2 separate regions of the Homo sapiens genome follow, and region 2 is linked to region 1. Evidence: fine-mapped expression QTL. A gene starts in region 1. The other region holds a variant in brackets. All regions are shown on one strand. Distances are between the middles of the regions. Region 1 holds the start of BEAN1 (brain expressed associated with NEDD4 1). Region 2 has its middle 26 kb from the start of BEAN1-AS1.

Region 1 (5,370 bases):
GACCACTGCTTTCTTCCCATCACTCCTGCCCGCCCACCCGCTCCTTGCCACCTCCAGGATCCCAGCATCCTCCCCTATCCCCTGGGCCTATGCCCTGCTCTGCTCTGGGTCTAAGGTCCCAGCCACACAGACTGGAGCAAATCCCTTCCTGGGGACACCCTGCTCTGAAGTTTGAACCTCTCAATCACTGGCTCCATTTCCTCCCCGACATCCTTCATTTCTGGTGCCTCATGGCCCAGTTGCCTGGACGAATACATCATAGTCTGCGAAGAATCAAGGCTGGGACCCCTCAGACCTCTAGGCTGTCTCCCTGGTGCTTCTTGCTGCCTGTCTGAACCGTCACCATCGGTGTGTCCAAGCCACCTGACAGCCTGATGGCTCCTCAGGGAAAGCAATCCTCCACCCGGGAGTGGAGGGAGGTGTTAAATTCCCTTGTACGGAGCTCGAGCAATGGGTGGGTGCCCCTCTCTGGGGCAGCGGACATCAGCTAAGGGCAAGGAGGAAAAGGGTGCACCTTACAGTCAGATGCAGCCTTTTCACCCTGGAGAGAGATGGGAGGTAGCAGGGGAGAACTGGGCTGGGCGGTAGAGAGCCTTGGAGGAGGGAGCGTCTGAGAAAGGGTGGGCCCTAAGGAGAAAGTTTTGCTTTGCAATTAAATGTCAACAGCTTGGGGAATTCAAAGGCCTCCTTGGAGGGGGCTGGGAGCACCACTTCAGATTCAGAGGCACTGAATCTCAGCATCTACTGGTGCTGGACACCTCAGGACACCTGTAGCCCACCACAATTGGCCACTGGCTGCGTGCCAGGCACCAGGCTACATACCCTCACCAGCATCATCTCATTTAATCCTCCCAACTCACCTTCCCCATGTTCCAGATGGGGAAACTAAGGCTCAGAGAGGTTTGTGTCTTGCTTAAGGTTGTACAGCCAGGAAGTCAGCCAAGCCCACCTTCTGGTTCCAAATCCCTTAAACATCCCGCTCACAACAGACTCCTGCTTACTTTCAGATGAGGAAACTGAGGCACAGGGTGGTGAAGTCTCTCGTTCCAGCAGAGCAGTTATGTTTGAGGAGTGAGTCCAGAGCGGCATGCTCTCGGCAGGGGCTCATCGGAAATCGTGGCTCAAGAGCAAGGATCCCTGAACCCCTGCCTCTCACACCAGTTACTTGCGCCCTCCCTTTCCCAGCCTGCGCCCCGCCACCCACGCCGGCACCCGCCCGAGATGGACAGGGCAGTCCCTGGTCCTCACCGCTCTCCAGCCTCCAGACCGCAGAGCCCGATAGGGAAGGAGGAAGGGCAGCGAGAGTCAGCCGGGTGTGGGGTGGGCCCTGCCCCTGGGGAGCGGCGGCGGTGCCACTCAGCGCTGCGCAGCCAGCCTGAGCTGCCTGCCGCCTCGCCTCGTACTCAGCCTCGGGTCCCTCTGACAGCGCAAGGGAAAGTCTGTCCCAAAGTGGGAGAAGGTGCGGAGGGCGCGCTCTCTCTCCGACGCTCGGTGCTGAGACAGAGGCACGGAGACAGGGGCATACCCCAGGCGACCTGCTCGTCGAAGGGTCAAACTTCCTAGCTCAAAGGGGTGCGGGTGGGTTCAAACTCCAAACTCCGTGAAGCCCCAGCCCCTTTCCTCTCCCACCCCGACCGAGAGTGCGCCCTAGTTTTCCCTTCTTGGTTGGGTTGTTCAGGGGTCCCCGAAACCGAGGGCAAGCTGCTGGGGAGGCTGTCTTGGGTTCCCCAAATGCGGTTGATGCTCGTCGGGGACTCGAGTCAGGCAGAAAACCTGGATACCTCCCCTTCCCCGAGGCCCGAGGGCGCGATCAGGGTCAGCCTCGGCTCGCGCAGATCCCAGTGGCCAGCCCGGGGTCGAGGGTCCGCGGGAGACCCGGGATCCCGCTCCGTTCCGAGCGCGCTGCGGTTCCGTTCCGGACCGCGCATCCGCCCGCCCCGCGCACCGAGGCTCCGCGCGGCGCGCCCCCGGGTGTGTCGTTCGCCGGTACCACCGCAGAGCGCGGGGGAATGGGGCCGGGACCCCCCGCCCGCCCCTCCCCCGCGCCGCCCAGCCCCACGCCCCTTACTCGGCTTGGCTGCAGCGCTCCGCTCCGTGCGCCGCAGTGCCGGCTCCAGCTTCGGCTCCAGCTCCGGTTCCCGCCCCGGCTCCGGCTCCCAGTCCGGTTCCCGCTCGGAGGCCACTGCGCTCGGGCTCGGGCGTCGCGGGGGGCGCGCCGCTACGCTTCGGCCTGCTGGGCGCGCAGGGGCGGGGCGGGGCGGGCCAGGCGGGGCCAGGCGAGCCGGGCCGACCAGCCGCCCGCGATCCCGGGCCGAGGCAGCGGCGGCGGCGGCTTCCCAGGCCCCGGCCCTGGCCCTGGCCCTGCCCTGCCGCAGCCCCGCCCGGCCGCCCGTCGTCCCCGCGCCGCCGCCCACGCCACCGTCACCGGCCCCGGCCCCCCTCGGCGGCGGCGCGGCTCCCGGGCCTCAGCACCGCGGCGCCGCGGCCCGGGTCACTCCGAGATGCGGGGCGGGGGGCGCGGGTGCGGGGGAGGGCCGAGCCGCGCCCCTTTGCGCACAGCCAGCCCGACACCCACACAGCAGCAGGCGGGGCAGGGCGGCGAGGAGGCCGGGAAATGCGGGAGGCCGACGCTCCAGTCAGACGTGTGAAGAGGACACACAGGCGTGTGTAGGGAATGACACACGGACGCGAGCGGGGAGCCACTGACACGTGCAGAGAAGGGTAGACAAACGAGGTGTCAGGGAAGGACAGCCAGACAGGTTGGACCGAGGCTAGGCTGGGCATTTGAGCAGGGGACCCCTGTCGCGGGCAAAGAGCAAAGTGCGGGATGGAGAGGGGGACCCAGCGTGGCTGGGCCGCTGGCAGGGGCAGGCGAGCCTGGCAGGGCTTCCCGCTCGCGGTTGCTGGCAGGTGAGTTTTGGGATTCCAGCTAGGCCTGGCCCAAACCTTCCTTCGGAGCCACCAGCAGGCCTGTTTCCTTCACCCCGTCACCCTCCCTGTGCCCCCGTTCCCCGCTGCCCAAACGTCAGGGCATAGGGCTCAGCCCTGGCAGGTGGAAGCCGGCCCCGAGGGGATGCCTGGCTCAGGCCGGGGTTCCAGGCTTCCAGGACCTGCTCTGTCCCCACCCTGCTTTGGGGCCTTGGACGAATCCCAGCCCATCTCTCAGGCCTCCCTGTCCTCATTAGGATATTGCTCCCAATGATTGCACCCCTACTGTGTTGGGGTGCTCGCCAGCGTGGAGGAGTTATTTATTTAACCTCCGCCACTTGCCTGGGAGCGCCAGGAGGGCAGCGTCTGGGTAGGGCTGCAGGGGTCTGCACAGAGTGGGCACTCAGTGAATTTGCTGCAGGAATTGATGAAATGTGTTGTTGCTAACACTCTCTGAACCACTACTGTTGATGAGGAAACTGGGGCTTAGGAGGCAAGGGGAGTCAAAAGCTGGGTTCGTTTCAAAACCCAAAGGCTTGTCACTGGCGGGAAAGTGGTTCTCAAAAATAAAGCATGGTGACAAAGGGCTGAACATGTTGATGCTAAACCTTGGGGAAGCAGTGAAGCCATGGGGATGTTGTGGAAGGGAAAGTTGGCCAGGGACTGGCCTTGCAGGGAGGATGGGGCAGAGCAGGCTCCGGTGGAGAAAACAAACCCCAGCCCTGCCAGTCATCACGTCTTGGGCTTCCCTGGGGCCAGGCAGGGGAAGCTGCGTGGTCTAGGGCTTGGGTGCTTGAGGACATCTCCCAGCCTCCTCTGGTAACTGTTCATTCTGGGCTCTGCTCCCTGCACTATTTACCGCCCCCCCCCCGCCCCCACTCCCCGCCCTCCTGCAGGCTGGGGCTGTCACGGGGACATCAGCTCTGAGTAAGGGATGAGGCTAGAATAAAGGGAAACAATTCTCAGAGAACCGAGGAAGGGGACCTGAGAGACCCTTTGTCCAACCTCATGCATTTATTTTATGAATGAATAAATGAAGGATCAGAGAAAGGAGGGGATAGGCTAGGGTCAAAGAGGTAGGATTGGAGGCTCTACAACTCCCAAGCTAGGGCTGTGCCCACGGTATAACCTTGATCTCTCTGAGGACACCTGCTGACCCTTCCAGGATGGATATTCTAGTTGTTGAGTGGTTTTGCCTGTAAGCTGCCCCCTTTGGCAAGACTCTGTGTGTTTGTGTGTGTGTGTGTTGTGGTGGGGGTGGGGGGACCAGGGATAAGTGTGTGTGGCACACTTTGAGTGAGTCCTTGCGGAAGGTCCTAGCCCTAAAGAGTTAATTCCCGTCCACTCCCCTATTTGTGCATCACTGGCCTGGCAAATCTGGCTTGCTCCTCAGACTGGAACCAGGACTGTTTTCCAGTGGTGTTGGGTGTAGTTTCAGGGAGCTGGCTTATGACGGCGTGCCTACCAATCTCTGTGTGTCTATGTATCCATCCACAAATATATATTAGTGTAGGGCACTTGGAAAATACAAAAGGAAAAAGAAGAAAAGAAAATCCAGTCATTGTGAATATTGAGCTTTCCTGTTTTCCTTTCTTTTTACCTGTGTAACTCTACAAGAGTCCTTAAATGGAGTGAGCTTGCTGACTGATATCTCCTCTCCTATGTCACACTTTTAGTGGCTACCTAGCATAGGATCAGATGGTTGTATTGCACATATTTTTTTAACCAGTCCCCTATTTCTGAGCATTTAGTTTGTTTCCATTTTTCATACTTCTAAACAACACTGCAACGGACATCTTCATGGGGAGGCTTGTGCATGCCCATGACTATCCTTTATGTCTCTAGGTATGTCATAGTTTTGAGGCTTTCTTCGTGTAGGGTCAGATTTGCAGAAGGGGCATCTACTGGGTACCAGGGAGGCACAGTGGTGTTTAGTGTTTGCTTGGCCTAGGGATAGGTAGGGATGCTGGAGGGAAGAGTCTGAGGGAAATCAGGAAGTGAGATCTCAGGACAGTGAGATGCCCAAAGAGTCCCCAAGTGCTGGGCTTTGGGGCTTGCCCTAGAGTGTGCTTCATGTCACCCCAGCCGCTCACAGGGAATCCCAAAAAACGTCTTTTCTGTTTGCAAAGAACAGGATCCATGATGTCATTCATCCCAAACAGAGCCCATGGCATGGAGATGTTGGAAGGGTCTCTTGGGCCTGATCAGCTTGTACCTCCCTACCATCCTTCCTTCTTTGAAATGTCTTTGCTTTACCCCCTTACAAATTACCCAGTCTCATATATTCCTTTATAGCAATGTAAGAACGGCTTAACACAGCCAGGCTGCCCCTTCTGTCTTCCTTTAGGAGGGAAACCTCTCTTCTAGGACCCTGGACTAGGTCTCCAGGAGCTGAAGTATAAAAGACAGCCTCTCCTCTCCTATCTCCAGCGGCCTTTCTGG
Region 2 (5,370 bases), 76 kb before region 1:
AACCATCCTGGCTAACACGGTGAAACCCTGTCTCTACTAAAAATACAAAAAATTAGCTGGGCATGGTGGCGGGCGCCTGTAGTCCCAGCTACTCTGGAGGCTGAGGCAGGAAAATGGCGTGAACACAGGAGGCGGAGCTTGCAGTCAGCCGAGATCGTGCCACTGCACTCCAGCCTAGGTGACAGAGGGAGACTCCGTCTAGGGAAAAAAAAAAAAAAAAAAAAAAAAAAAAAATATATATATATATATATATAAAATCACAGACAAGATTTACCTGTTGATACTAAAATTAGTGGACAGAAGTTTGAGGAAAAACAAGATTTGCATAGTTTCTATTTCCCCTAATATACTTATCAAGTAAAAAGGGAAAGAAATTAACTAATTTGACAGTGGAGATGGAAACCCCATAGAAACCAGCTTAATAAGTGATTAAGGTAATAAGACGTAGTGACATCATGAAGCCTTTACAAAGATGCACTGAGGACAGCATCTTTTTTTTTTTTTTTTTTTTTTTTGAGACAGGGTCTCACTCTGTCACCCAGGCTGGAATGCAGTGGCGCAATCACAGCTCACTGCAGCCTCGACCTCCTGGGCTCAGGTGATCCTCCTCAGCTTCCCGGGGAGCTGGGACTACAGGTGTGTGCCACCAGGCTGGCTAATTTTTTTTTTTTTTTTTTTTTTTTTTTTTGAGACGGAGTCTCGCTCTGTCACCCAGGCTGGAGTGCAGTGGCGGGATCTCGGCTCACTGCAAGCTCCGCCTCCCGGGTTCACGCCATTCTCCTGCCTCAGCCTCCCAAGTAGCTGGGACTACAGGCGCCCGCCACTACGCCCGGCTAATTTTTTTGTATTTTTAGTAGAGACGGGGTTTCACCGTTTTAGCCGGGATGGTCTCGATCTCCTGACCTCGTGATCCGCCCGCCTCGGCCTCCCAAAGTGCTGGGATTACAGGCGTGAGCCACCGCGCCCGGCCATTTTTTGTATTTTTTGTAGAATAGGGCTTTTGTCATGTTGCCCAGGCTGGACTTGAACTCCTGAGCTCAAGTGATCTGCCTGCCTTGGCCTCTGAAAGTGCTGGGATTACAGTGTGAGCCATCATGCCTGGCAGCATCATTTGTTTTTTTGGTGTGGTATCCTTGCCAGAAATGCATACTTGACTCCAGTATTAAGAAAGCACCAGACAAACCCAAATGGAGGGACATTCAACAAAATAACTGATTGGAAAAAACTCTTTAAAAGCATCAAGATCGTGTTAGACAAGGAAAAAACAAGAACTATTACAGACTGGAGGAGACAAAGGAAAATATACAAATGCAATGTGGGATCCTGGATGGGCTCCTGGAATAGAGAAAGGATTTTAATAGAACACTAGGAAACTTAAATAATATGTGTAGTATCGTTAATAACATTGTATCAATATTAATTTCCTGTTCTTGATCATTATATTATGGTTACATAAGATGTCAACTTCAGTGCAATGTGGGATCCTGTATATGCTCCTGGAATAGAGAAAGGATATTAATGGAACACTGGGGAAACTTAAATAAGGTTTGTAGTATAGTTAAGAACATTGTATCAATATTAATTTCCTGTTCTTGATCATTATACTATGGTTACGTAAGATGTCAACTTTAGGAGAAGCAGGGCCAGGAGTGGAAAGGAGTTCTTTGTACTATTTTGCAACTTTTCTCTCCATCTAAAATTAGTTAGAATAACGCCCTTCATGGGAAATAAAGGCAGAGCACAACACTGTAAATATTACAATCCCAAATGTTTAATATATGCGTATATAGAAAAAAGACTGGGAGGAATTGCAGGAATGTGGTGACATTGGGTATCGCTGAATGGTGGAAATTATGGTAAGGTTTGCTTTCGTTTTCATATTCATCTGTACTTTCTAAGTTTTCTACTCATTTGATGGTTTAATATGGTGGATCCTTGGAAATAACGGTGAATGAGACAAGATGAAGTTTATCTCTCATGGAGCTTATCTTCTAATGGGGGGAAATGGAAAATGAATACATGAATTAAAATCTTTGTGCAGAAAATTAAGCTGATGTGATAGATGGTCAGAGGGGGCCTCTCTGAGAAGGTGACATTTAAGGGGAGATGTGAATAACAAGGAAGAGAACATGGCAGGGTAGGGTAGGGAGACAGAGCAGAGGGAACAGTCTGTGCAGAGGCTGGGAATAGGGCCAGGCTCAGCATGTTCCAGAACCTTGCAGAAGCCAGGGTGGCTCTGGCTACAGCGGACAATGGGGAAGGGACCTGAGATGAGTTCAGAGGGAAAGTGAGGGGCTGAGCCTGGGACTTGATATGGCCTCGGGCACCCCTGGAGGGAACTGAACACATGAGAATCATGATCAAATGTAGGTGGTTTTTTTTTGTTTTGTTTTGTTTTTTTTAACATTTTCTATTTTATTTTATTTTTTAAATATATAGAGACGGGGTCTTTCTGTGTTGCC[C/G]AGGCTGGTCCCAAACTCCTGGACTCAAGCAGTCCTCCCACCTCAGCTTTCCAAAGTGCTGGAATTACAGGCATGAGCCACCACGCACAGCCCTAATGTAGGTTTAACGGAATCCTCCAGCATTCGGGTGGAGCACAGGCTGCAGAAGGCTGGCAGCCTCCAGGGACGTGAGTGAGAGAGGATGGTGAATTTGGTTACTGTGGAAGGAGGGGGGAAGGGGTTGGATTCAGACTCTGTTGTGAAAGAGAGGAGCTAGGAATTGGATGAAGGATGTGATAGAGAGAGAGAGCGGGGGGAGGAGGAAAGAGAGAGGAGAGAGAGATATATGTTGGTCAAGGGTGATGTCTGCATTGGATTGGAGTGAGTGAGTGGATGGTGGACTCATTTACCCAGATGGGGAATGCGGGAGCGGCAGGCTTAGTGGAGAGAGCAAAAGTTCTGTTTTGGTTTGGAATAAGCATGCTTATTATGTTAATGGTCAGAAAAGAATGAATAAAAAAAAAATAATTAGCTCGCCTTTCCTGCCCCTGGAATCCTTGGCCTAAGTTGCTCTCCCAGGTTCCTTTGCTGCAGGTCAGGTGCCCTGGGGGATATGCCTTGGAGTGGCTGTCATGGTTCCAAGCTGACGCAACCTCTTGCCTCATCCTCCTGAGATTGCTGACCTGCTCTGCCTCCAGATCAGCCTGTTCTTTTTTTTTTCCATTTATTTATTTTAAGAGACAGGGTCTCACTCTGTCACCCAGGCTGGAGTGCAGTGGTGTAATCACGGCTCACTGCAGCCTTGAGCTCCTGGGCTCAATCAGTCCTCCCATCTCAGCCTCCTGAGTAGCTGGGACTACATGGCTGGCTAATTTTAATTTTTTTTTTAAATTATACTTTAAGTTTTAGGGTACATGTGCACAACGTGCAGGTTAGTTACATATGTATACATATGCCATCTTGGTGTCCTGCACCCATTAACTCGTCATTTAACATTAGGTATATCTCCCAATGCTATCCTTCCCCCGTCCCCCCACCCCACAACAGGCCCCAGTGTGTGATGTTCCCGTTCCTGTGTCCATGTGTTCTCATTGTTCAGTTCCCACCTATGAGTGAGAACATGTGGTGTTTGGTTTTTTGTCCTTGCGATAGTTTGCTGAGAATGATGGTTTCCGGCTTCATCCATGTCCCTACAAAGGACATGAACTCGTCATTTTTTATGGCTGCATAGTGTTCCATGGTGTGTATGTGCCACATTTTCTTAATCCAGTCTATCATTGTTGGACATTTGGCTTGGTTCCAAGTCTTTGCTATTGTGAATAATGCTGCAATAAACATACATGTGCATGTGTCTTTATAGCAGCATGATTTATAATCCTTTGGGTATATATCCAGTAATGGGATTGCTGGGTCAAATGGTATTTCTAGTTCTAGATCCCTGAGGAATCGCCACACTGACTACCACAGCGGTTGAACTTGTTTACAGTCCCACCAACAGTGTAAAAGTGTTCCTATTTCTCCACATCCTCTCCAGCACCTGTTGTTTCCTGACTTTTTAATGATCACCATTCTAACTGGTGTGAGATGGTATCTCATTGTGGTTTTGATTTGCATCTCTCTGATGGCCAGTGATGATGAGCATTTTTTTCATGTGTCTTTTGGCTGCATAAATGTCTTCTTTCGAGAAGTGTCTATTATATCCTTTGCCCACTTTTTGATGGGGTTGTTTGTTTTTTTTCTTGTAAATTTGTTTGAGTTCATTGTAGATTCTGGATATTAGCCCTTTGTCAGATAAGTAGATTGCAAAAATTTTCTCCCATTCTGTAGGTTGTCTGTTCACTCTGATGGTAGTTTCTTTTGCTGTGCAGAAGCTCTTTAGTTTAATGAGATCCCGTTTGTCAATTTTGGCTTTGGTTGCCATTGCTTTTGGTGTTTTAGACATGAAGTCCTTGCCCATGCCTATGTCCTGAATGGTATTGCCTAGGTTTTCTTCTAGTGTTTTTATGGTTTTAGGTCTAACATTTAAGTCTTTAATCCATCTTGAATTAATTTTTGTATAAGGTGTAAGGAAGGGATCCAGTTTCAGCTTTCTACATATGGCTAGCCAGTTTTCCCAGCACCATTTATTAAATAGGGAATCCTTTCCCCATTTCCTGTTTTTATCAGGTTTGTCAAAGATCAGATGGTTATAGATATGCGGCAATATTTCTGAGGGCTCTGCTCTGTTCCGTTGGTCTATATCTCTGTTTTGGTACCAGTACCATGCTGTTTTGGTTACTGTAGCCTTGTAGTATAGTTTGAAGTCAGGTAGCGTGATGCCTCCAGCTTTGTTCTTTTGGCTTAGGATTGACTTGGCAATGTGGGCTCTTTTTTGGTTCCATATGAACTTTAAAGTAGTTTTTTCCAATTCTGTGAAGAAAGTCATTGGTAGCTTGATGGGGATGGCATTGAATCTATAAATTACCTTGGGCAGTATGGCCATTTTCATGATATTGATTCTTCCTACCCATGAGCATGGAATGTTCTTCCATTTGTTTTATCCTCTTTTATTTCATTGAGCAGTGGTTTGTAGTTCTCCTTGAAGAAGTCCTTCACGTCCCTTGTAAGTTGGATTCCTAGGTATTTTATTCTCTTTGAAGCAATTGTGAATGGGAGTTCACTCATGATTTGGCTCTCTGTCTATTATTGGTGTATAAGAATGCTTGTGATTTTTGCACATTGATTTTGTATCCTGAGACTTTGCATCCTGAGACTTTGCTGAAGTTGCCTATCAGCCTAAGGAGATTTTGGGCTGAGACAATGGGGTTTTCTACAAATACAATCATGTCATCTGCAAACAGGAACAATTTGACTTCCTCTTTTCCTAATTGAATACCCTTTATTTCCTTCTCCTGCCTGATTGCCCTGGCCAGAGCTTCCAACACTATGT

The links. PIP is the estimated chance that this variant, and not a neighbour inherited with it, causes the effect.
Region 2: its variant is the best candidate, but not a certain one, in a credible set for the expression of BEAN1 in tibial artery (GTEx, PIP 0.74).

The regions. Positions count from the first base shown.
Region 1 is chr16:66,424,130-66,429,499 of GRCh38, reverse strand. BEAN1 (brain expressed associated with NEDD4 1) reads right to left here and starts at 2,205. Exons shown (of 5, transcript NM_001178020.3): 1 at 2,069-2,205. RefSeq lists an enhancer at 777-1,377.
Region 2 is chr16:66,500,077-66,505,446 of GRCh38, reverse strand. No RefSeq gene overlaps it. Among named protein-coding and RNA genes, the nearest start is that of BEAN1-AS1, 26 kb to the right of the region's middle. The variant C/G (reference allele first, on the strand shown) is at 2,463.